Linked DNA regions of Homo sapiens. The protein of the gene in region 1 purifies or fractionates together with the protein of each later gene. This does not show direct contact. Each region holds a gene or a part of one and is shown in the gene's direction. Other genes may lie near its edges.

What was found. The genes of interacting proteins can lie anywhere in the genome.
Region 2: the proteins of PRR14 (region 1) and PPP2R5C purify together in Homo sapiens (affinity purification with mass spectrometry; 2 studies listed by BioGRID and IntAct, with this or other methods). This does not show direct contact.

What each region holds. Positions count from the first base shown.
Region 1 is NC_000016.10:30,653,960-30,656,913, forward strand, and holds the end of PRR14 (proline-rich protein 14), read left to right. Parts: intron 1-270; coding exon 271-380; intron 381-669; coding exon 670-1,255; intron 1,256-1,391; coding exon 1,392-1,461; intron 1,462-1,542; coding exon 1,543-1,634; intron 1,635-1,908; coding exon 1,909-1,980; intron 1,981-2,072; coding exon 2,073-2,352; 3' UTR 2,353-2,454; downstream 2,455-2,954. UniProt on the Homo sapiens protein: Functions in tethering peripheral heterochromatin to the nuclear lamina during interphase, possibly through the interaction with heterochromatin protein CBX5/HP1 alpha. Might play a role in reattaching heterochromatin to the nuclear lamina at mitotic exit.
Region 2 is NC_000014.9:101,908,209-101,911,708, forward strand, and holds part of PPP2R5C (serine/threonine-protein phosphatase 2A 56 kDa regulatory subunit gamma isoform), read left to right. Parts: intron 1-1,380; coding exon 1,381-1,482; intron 1,483-3,500.

The sequences.
Region 1 (2,954 bases):
AGACAAGATATTGTTTTAAATTAGTTGGATGTGGTGGTCCATGCATGTAGTTCTAGCCACTTGGGAGGCTGAGGTGGGAGGACTGCCTGAGCCTGGGAGTTCAAGGCTGCAGTGAGCTGAGATTGTGCCCCTGCACTCCAGCCTGGGCCACAGAGCAAGGCTCTGTCTCAAAAAAAAAAAAAAAGAAGAAGCCTTAAGGGATAGGGGAGTTGCTGGCTCAGGTGGGATACCTGGAAGTTCCCCTAGCCTTTACCTTGCCCTTCACCCCAGAGCTGAGCCCATGAGGATAGTTCGCCAGCCAACGCCTCCACCTGGGGACCTAGAACCCCCATTCCAGCCATCTGCTCTGCCTGCAGACCCTCTGGAGAGCCCACCAACAGGTAAGGACTTGGGTAGAGATCGGATGAGACTTGGGTGTCTGGGACATCCTAGTTGAGCTTGGAAGTGTCAGGTACAGAGTTGGGGATAGGGCTTAAGCCACCTCCCAGGGCAGGGCTTGGTATATAAAGATGGGATGTTGATGTCAGAGGCTTGAAGTTCAATTCTTAAATGCAGAACTTAGTGTTTTAAGGGTGGGCTAATTCCCCTGTGCACAAAGTTGAGCATGTGGGGAGGGGCTGAGACACTGCAGCCAAGGAATATCCACCTGTGACCCTCTCCTTTCCTCAGCCCCAGATCCTGCTCTGGAGCTCCCATCCACCCCACCACCGTCCAGCCTTTTACGCCCCCGCCTCAGTCCCTGGGGCTTGGCCCCGCTCTTCCGTTCCGTCCGCTCCAAGCTGGAGAGCTTTGCTGACATCTTCCTCACGCCCAACAAAACCCCACAGCCCCCACCCCCGTCCCCCCCAATGAAGCTGGAGTTGAAGATCGCCATCTCAGAGGCCGAGCAGTCTGGGGCTGCTGAGGGCACTGCGTCTGTCAGCCCCCGGCCCCCAATCCGCCAGTGGCGAACTCAGGACCACAATACCCCAGCACTTCTCCCTAAGCCCTCTCTGGGCCGAAGCTACTCCTGCCCTGATCTGGGGCCCCCTGGCCCAGGTACCTGCACCTGGCCACCTGCTCCACCCCAACCAAGCCGACCACGGCCGCGGCGGCACACTGTGGGTGGTGGGGAAATGGCCCGAGCCCCGCCACCCCCTCGGCCCTGTCTCCGGAAAGAGGTCTTCCCTCTCGGAGGAGTGGGAGCCTCCCCTTCTCTCACCACATCTTGCTCGTCCACGGCATCCACTTCCTTCTCCGAACCAGCAGAACCCAGGTAGTGCTCTCAAAAAACCCCCTTGAAGCCTGGCTGCAGCCTGGTCCCAGCCTCCTTCCCTGAGTATCCAGTGGGCAGGAGACGGGGGATAATGCAGTGAATCCTGTTTGTCCCTGAGCCTTGACCTTCTTGGCAGGTTGGGTTCAACCAAAGGGAAGGAGCCAAGAGCCTCAAAGGACCAGGTGCTTTCAGAACCTGAGACCAAGGTAGGCATTCAGATCGGGTAGAAGAGACTAGTGGGGGCCTGAGCCCATGTCACTCTTTCACCCTCTGCCCCATTTTTGCAGACCATGGGAAAGGTTTCTCGATTCAGAATACGCAGAACACCAGCCCGTCCTCAGCTAAACCTTACACCAATGGGACTGCCTCGACCAATCAGGTGAGGGGCTCACTGGGCATTGAGCCATCTTGGCCAAACAGATGCAGGCTTATGTCCCCTGAAGTATAGCTTTGTCTCCCCTCAGGGAGCACAGTCCAGCCTGAAAGATTCAATTCGGTGTGGGGATGGTTTGTGCTCAAAATTGCCTGTCTGCCTTATGTAGCACTCCTGGCCCTGACATGTCCCAGAAACTGAAATACAGACCAGGCCTTACCTGTCCCTTCAGGCCCCACTGGCCCAAGGTTTCTCAGTGGCCTCTGCTCTTTGCTCACAGGTTGAACAAGAAGGAGTTCAGCTTGGAAGAAATTTACACCAACAAGAATTACCAATCACCCACAACCAGGAGGTGAGACACTTGGAAGGCTAGAGGGTGGCAGAGGGAAATCTGGAGCTGTGGAGCACCCTGATAAAACCAGCTCCTCTCCCTGCCTTGTTCAGGACCTTTGAGACCATCTTTGAGGAACCCCGGGAGCGCAATGGGACTCTGATTTTCACCAGCTCAAGGAAGCTCCGGCGGGCTGTGGAATTTCGGGACAGCAGCCTTCCTCGATCACGAAGACCGTCCCGTGGGGTCCGGGCTGCAGGGGGCAGGACTGTTCCTCCCAATGTGGCCCCCAGCCCTGATGTGGGCCCCCTGCTCCAGCAGCGGCTGGAGGAGCTAGATGCCTTGCTCCTGGAGGAAGAAACAGTAGATCGGGAGCAGCCCCACTGGACCTAGGTGCCCCATCTGTTGGTCATCCATCCTGAAGGGACAGGAAACCTCCCAGGCAGTTATTTTTTTTTCTCTATATTTCTAGTAAAGTTTTCGATATGTTTCTGATTCTTTTGTATCTCTAGCTGAGTTTAAGATTGATTTGGCTGATGTTTCTACGTTGACCCCCAAAGGTCTGGGAACTGGGGCTGGTGCTAGAGATGGTGACAGGGGTTGGGTACAGAGTACAGGGAGGGGGTGAAGTGGTCACTTGAGATAGATAGATAGATAGATAGATAGATAGATAGATAGATAGATGATAGATATAGATGGAGTTCCGCTCATGTCACTCAGGCTGGAGTACAATGGCACGATCTTGGCTCACTGCAACCTCTGTCTCCCTCATTCAAGCGATTCTCCTGCCTCAGCCTCCCAAGTATCTGGGATTACAGGCGTGCGCTACCACACCCGCTAATTTTTGTATTTTTAGTAGAAACTGGGCTTCACCATGTTGGCCAGGATGGTCTTGAACATCTGACCTCAGGAAATCCGCCTGCTTTGGCCTCCCTAAGTGCTGGGATTACAGGCATGAGCCACCATGCCCGGCCTAGAGATACTCTCTTGCTTAG
Region 2 (3,500 bases), on another chromosome or scaffold:
ACCAAGTAAGCATTTGCTGTCACTTAGTGGTTGTAGGGCCAGCAGCCATGCTGATAGCAGTGGAGGCAGCAGCCAAGACCCTCATGGCAATAGCGTGGTGGTTGTAGTTGTTAATACAGCACATCCACCCTCAACAACCTGTTCTTTGTAGCATTGATTTATTTTATTTATTTATTTATTTTTGAGATGGAGTCTTGCTCTGTCACCCAGACTGGAGTGCAGTGGCACCATCCTGGCTCACTGCAGCCTCCACCTCCCAGGTTCAAGTGATTCTCCCACCTCAGCCTCCCAAGTAGCTGGGACTACAGACATGAGCCACCACTCCTGGCTAATTTTTGCATTTGTAGTAGAGATGGGGTTTCACCATGTTGGCCAGGCTGGTCTTGAACTCCTGACCTGAAGTGACCCACCCGCCTCAGCCTCCCACGGTGCCGGGACTACAGGTGTGAGCCACCGCGCCTGGCTTGCATTGATTTTTTTTTTTTTAATCGCAACAATGACAACAAAGCCCCTGGAGTGTCGCCATGTTTCTTGTGTGTAATTTAGTTTAGTATGTAAGTCAGCACAATTCATAACTGACTTCCAATCCCCGCCCATTGCAAAGAAAAAAATGTTCTTTTAAGTGTTTTCTAAGTACAACTTGGGTTTTATTACAAAGTGGATTAAGAAGGAATTATGATTTGAGGGTTACGTTTTTTGGGATTTATTTGTTTTTAGCTACTGGCACCTGTTGCTCACAGTCCTGCGGGTCGAGCAGGTCCTGCTGCGCAGGCTTTCGCTGGTGTCTGCTGGGGGATCGGGGCTCTTACAGGGCTGCAGTCCCATGGCAGCTGGGACTAGAGTCACCCAGAGGCTCAGCTGGAACAATTTGGCCTCTTTCCCTCTCCATGCGTGTCAGAGCCTGAGAGCTAAGCATTGATTAAGCTGTTTTATGCTCATTTTATTTTCTCTTTCAAAGCTCTGTGTTGCCATTATTAAAATTAATTTTTCTGTCCTCAGGGAATAAGATGAAAAGAAACTGACATTTATAGGAAATCAAGTATTGCCATTATTGTCCTCTTTATAATTTTGTCTTAACTATATTTGTTCAAGTTTCAATGTTTTTAATTCAGTTTCTGAGCAAGGTCGTTTTTGGCTACTGTCAGCTGGAGACAGTGAGTGGAGTGGCCTCTGTGGCTATGTGAGAGCCACTGTGAAGAAAGTCTCGGGATGTGTGGCTGTCAGAAAACAAGTAACGCGGAATGAGCAGGCCTTGCATTTTAGACCTTAGGGATCCTGTGCGATGTGGGACTGTTGGAATATGGAGCAGCCTGAGAGTGGAGAGGCGAGGGCTCAGCAGGAATGCGTGCTCCCAGGCTCACCGTGCGGTTTTCTTTATAGGACAATACATGGCTTGATATACAACGCCCTGAAGCTCTTCATGGAGATGAACCAAAAGCTATTTGATGACTGTACACAACAGTTCAAAGCAGAGAAACTAAAGTGAGTTGTTCCTTTCACAAGTTACTGTTTCCAGGATTTTTTTCTTAATCCTAAGTAAACCTCTTCCACTGTTTTGTCCTAAAACGGTATTCTTCACTCGAAAGCAAAACCAAGCCTTTCATACTTGGAAAGCAAATTAAAACTGTGTTATAATAACGTATTTTGAAAGAACAGGTGTTTAAAGGTAGCTATTCTCCCCCCTTGTATTGCCAGATTAATCATCTTTGCAAAAAGTGCTTATGTAAGCAAGAATTTAACATTCAGAATTTTTTCTTTTCTTGGGCTATAATGGGCTTAAAGGCTATAATGTGTAGTCCATTTTCATGTTTATAAGGCAGGGATTTGAATTATATCCTATAAGGTTTATCCCAGAGAGCAAGAATCTTCATTTCAATGTAGCTTTATTCTGATTTAATGAACTCAGCGATGTGGGTGTTCTCTGGAATCTAGTCTGTCCTTTGCAAAATCAGGGTCCTGCCCTCGTGCCTTTGAGCCCACATGTGTCCAGGGATGATCTAAGTGACAAAGTACTTCGTCCCTAGGCTGTGCAAGTAATAATGTGATTAAATAGTTGTTGGAGGTCACTTCTTCCAAGTTGAGTATGGACTATTGGCAGATTTTATTTTTTGCTTGTCACTTAAAACTGGCTAAGGTAGATAAGCTTTGCACGAATGTAATTCAAAATACACTGTATACATATGTGTGTATCTATGTGTGTGTGTGTGTGTGTATATATATGAAACAACTGCCATTTAGTCATTCCTTAGACAAATATGTGAATATTTACCTTATACACCAGGCCCTGTTTTAGATTCTGGCAATATAGCAATGAATAAAACCCACAAAAATCCTTGCCCCTGGGCCGGGTGCGGTGGCTCACGCCTGTAATCCCAGCACTTTGGGAGGCCAAGGCGGGTGGATCACAAGGTCAGGAGATTGAGACCATGCTGGCTAACACGGTGAAACCCCATCTCTACTAAAAAATACCAAAAAAGGGCCAGGCGTGGTGGCTCATGCCTGTAATCCCAGCGCTTTGGGAGGCCGATGCAGGCAGATCACGAGGTCAGGAGATCGAGACCATCCTGGCTAACACAATGAAACCCCGTCTCTACTAAAAATACAAAAAAAAAGGCCGGGCATGGTGGCTCATGCCTGTAATCCCAGCACTTTGGGAGGCCAAAGCAGGCAGATCACCTGAGGTCAGGAGTTCGAGACAAGCCTGGCGAACACAGTGAAACCCCGTCTCTACTGAAAATACAAAAAATTAGCCGGGCGTGGTGGCAGGCGCCTGTGGTCCCAGCTACTCAGAGTCTGAGGCAGGAGAATGGTGTGAACCTGGGAGGCGGAGCTTGCAGTGAGCTGAGCTCACACCACTGCACTCCAGCCTGGGAGACAGAGAGAGACTCCGTCTCAAAAAAAAAAAAAATACAAAAAAAAATCAGCCGGGTGTGGTGGCGGGTGCCTGTAGTCCCAGCTACTCGGGCTGAGGCAGGAGGATGGCGTGAACCTGGAGGCGGAGCTTGCAGTGAGCCAAGATCACGCCACTGCACTCCAGCCTGGGCGACAGAGCGAGACTCCGTCTCAAAAAAAAAATCCTTGCCCTTTTGGGGTTTATATTCTGGGTAGTGTGGGGAAATAAAAGAACACAAAATACACCTAAGTGAACTATAGAGCATGAGAGATGACAAGTCAGTCAGGAAAGGGCCGGGGAGACAGACCAGCCATTCCTCTAGAGCTGCCAGCTGCATGGTCTGTTCTCATCTCAGCTCTCAGTGCAGTTCGCAGGTAGGAAGCATGCAAGCAGCAGGGCCTTCTGATGGCAGATCCTCCTCTCGTGGAATCCCACAGCTTTCCCAACAGGACCTTAAAGGTTGTGTAGTACATTTTCTGGGTTGAAAAACTTGGATCCTGGCCGGGCGCAGTGGCTCACACCTGTAATCCCAGCACTTTGGGAGGTTATGGCTGGTGGATCATTTGAGGTCAGGAGTTCGAGACCAGCCTGGCCAATATTGTGAAAC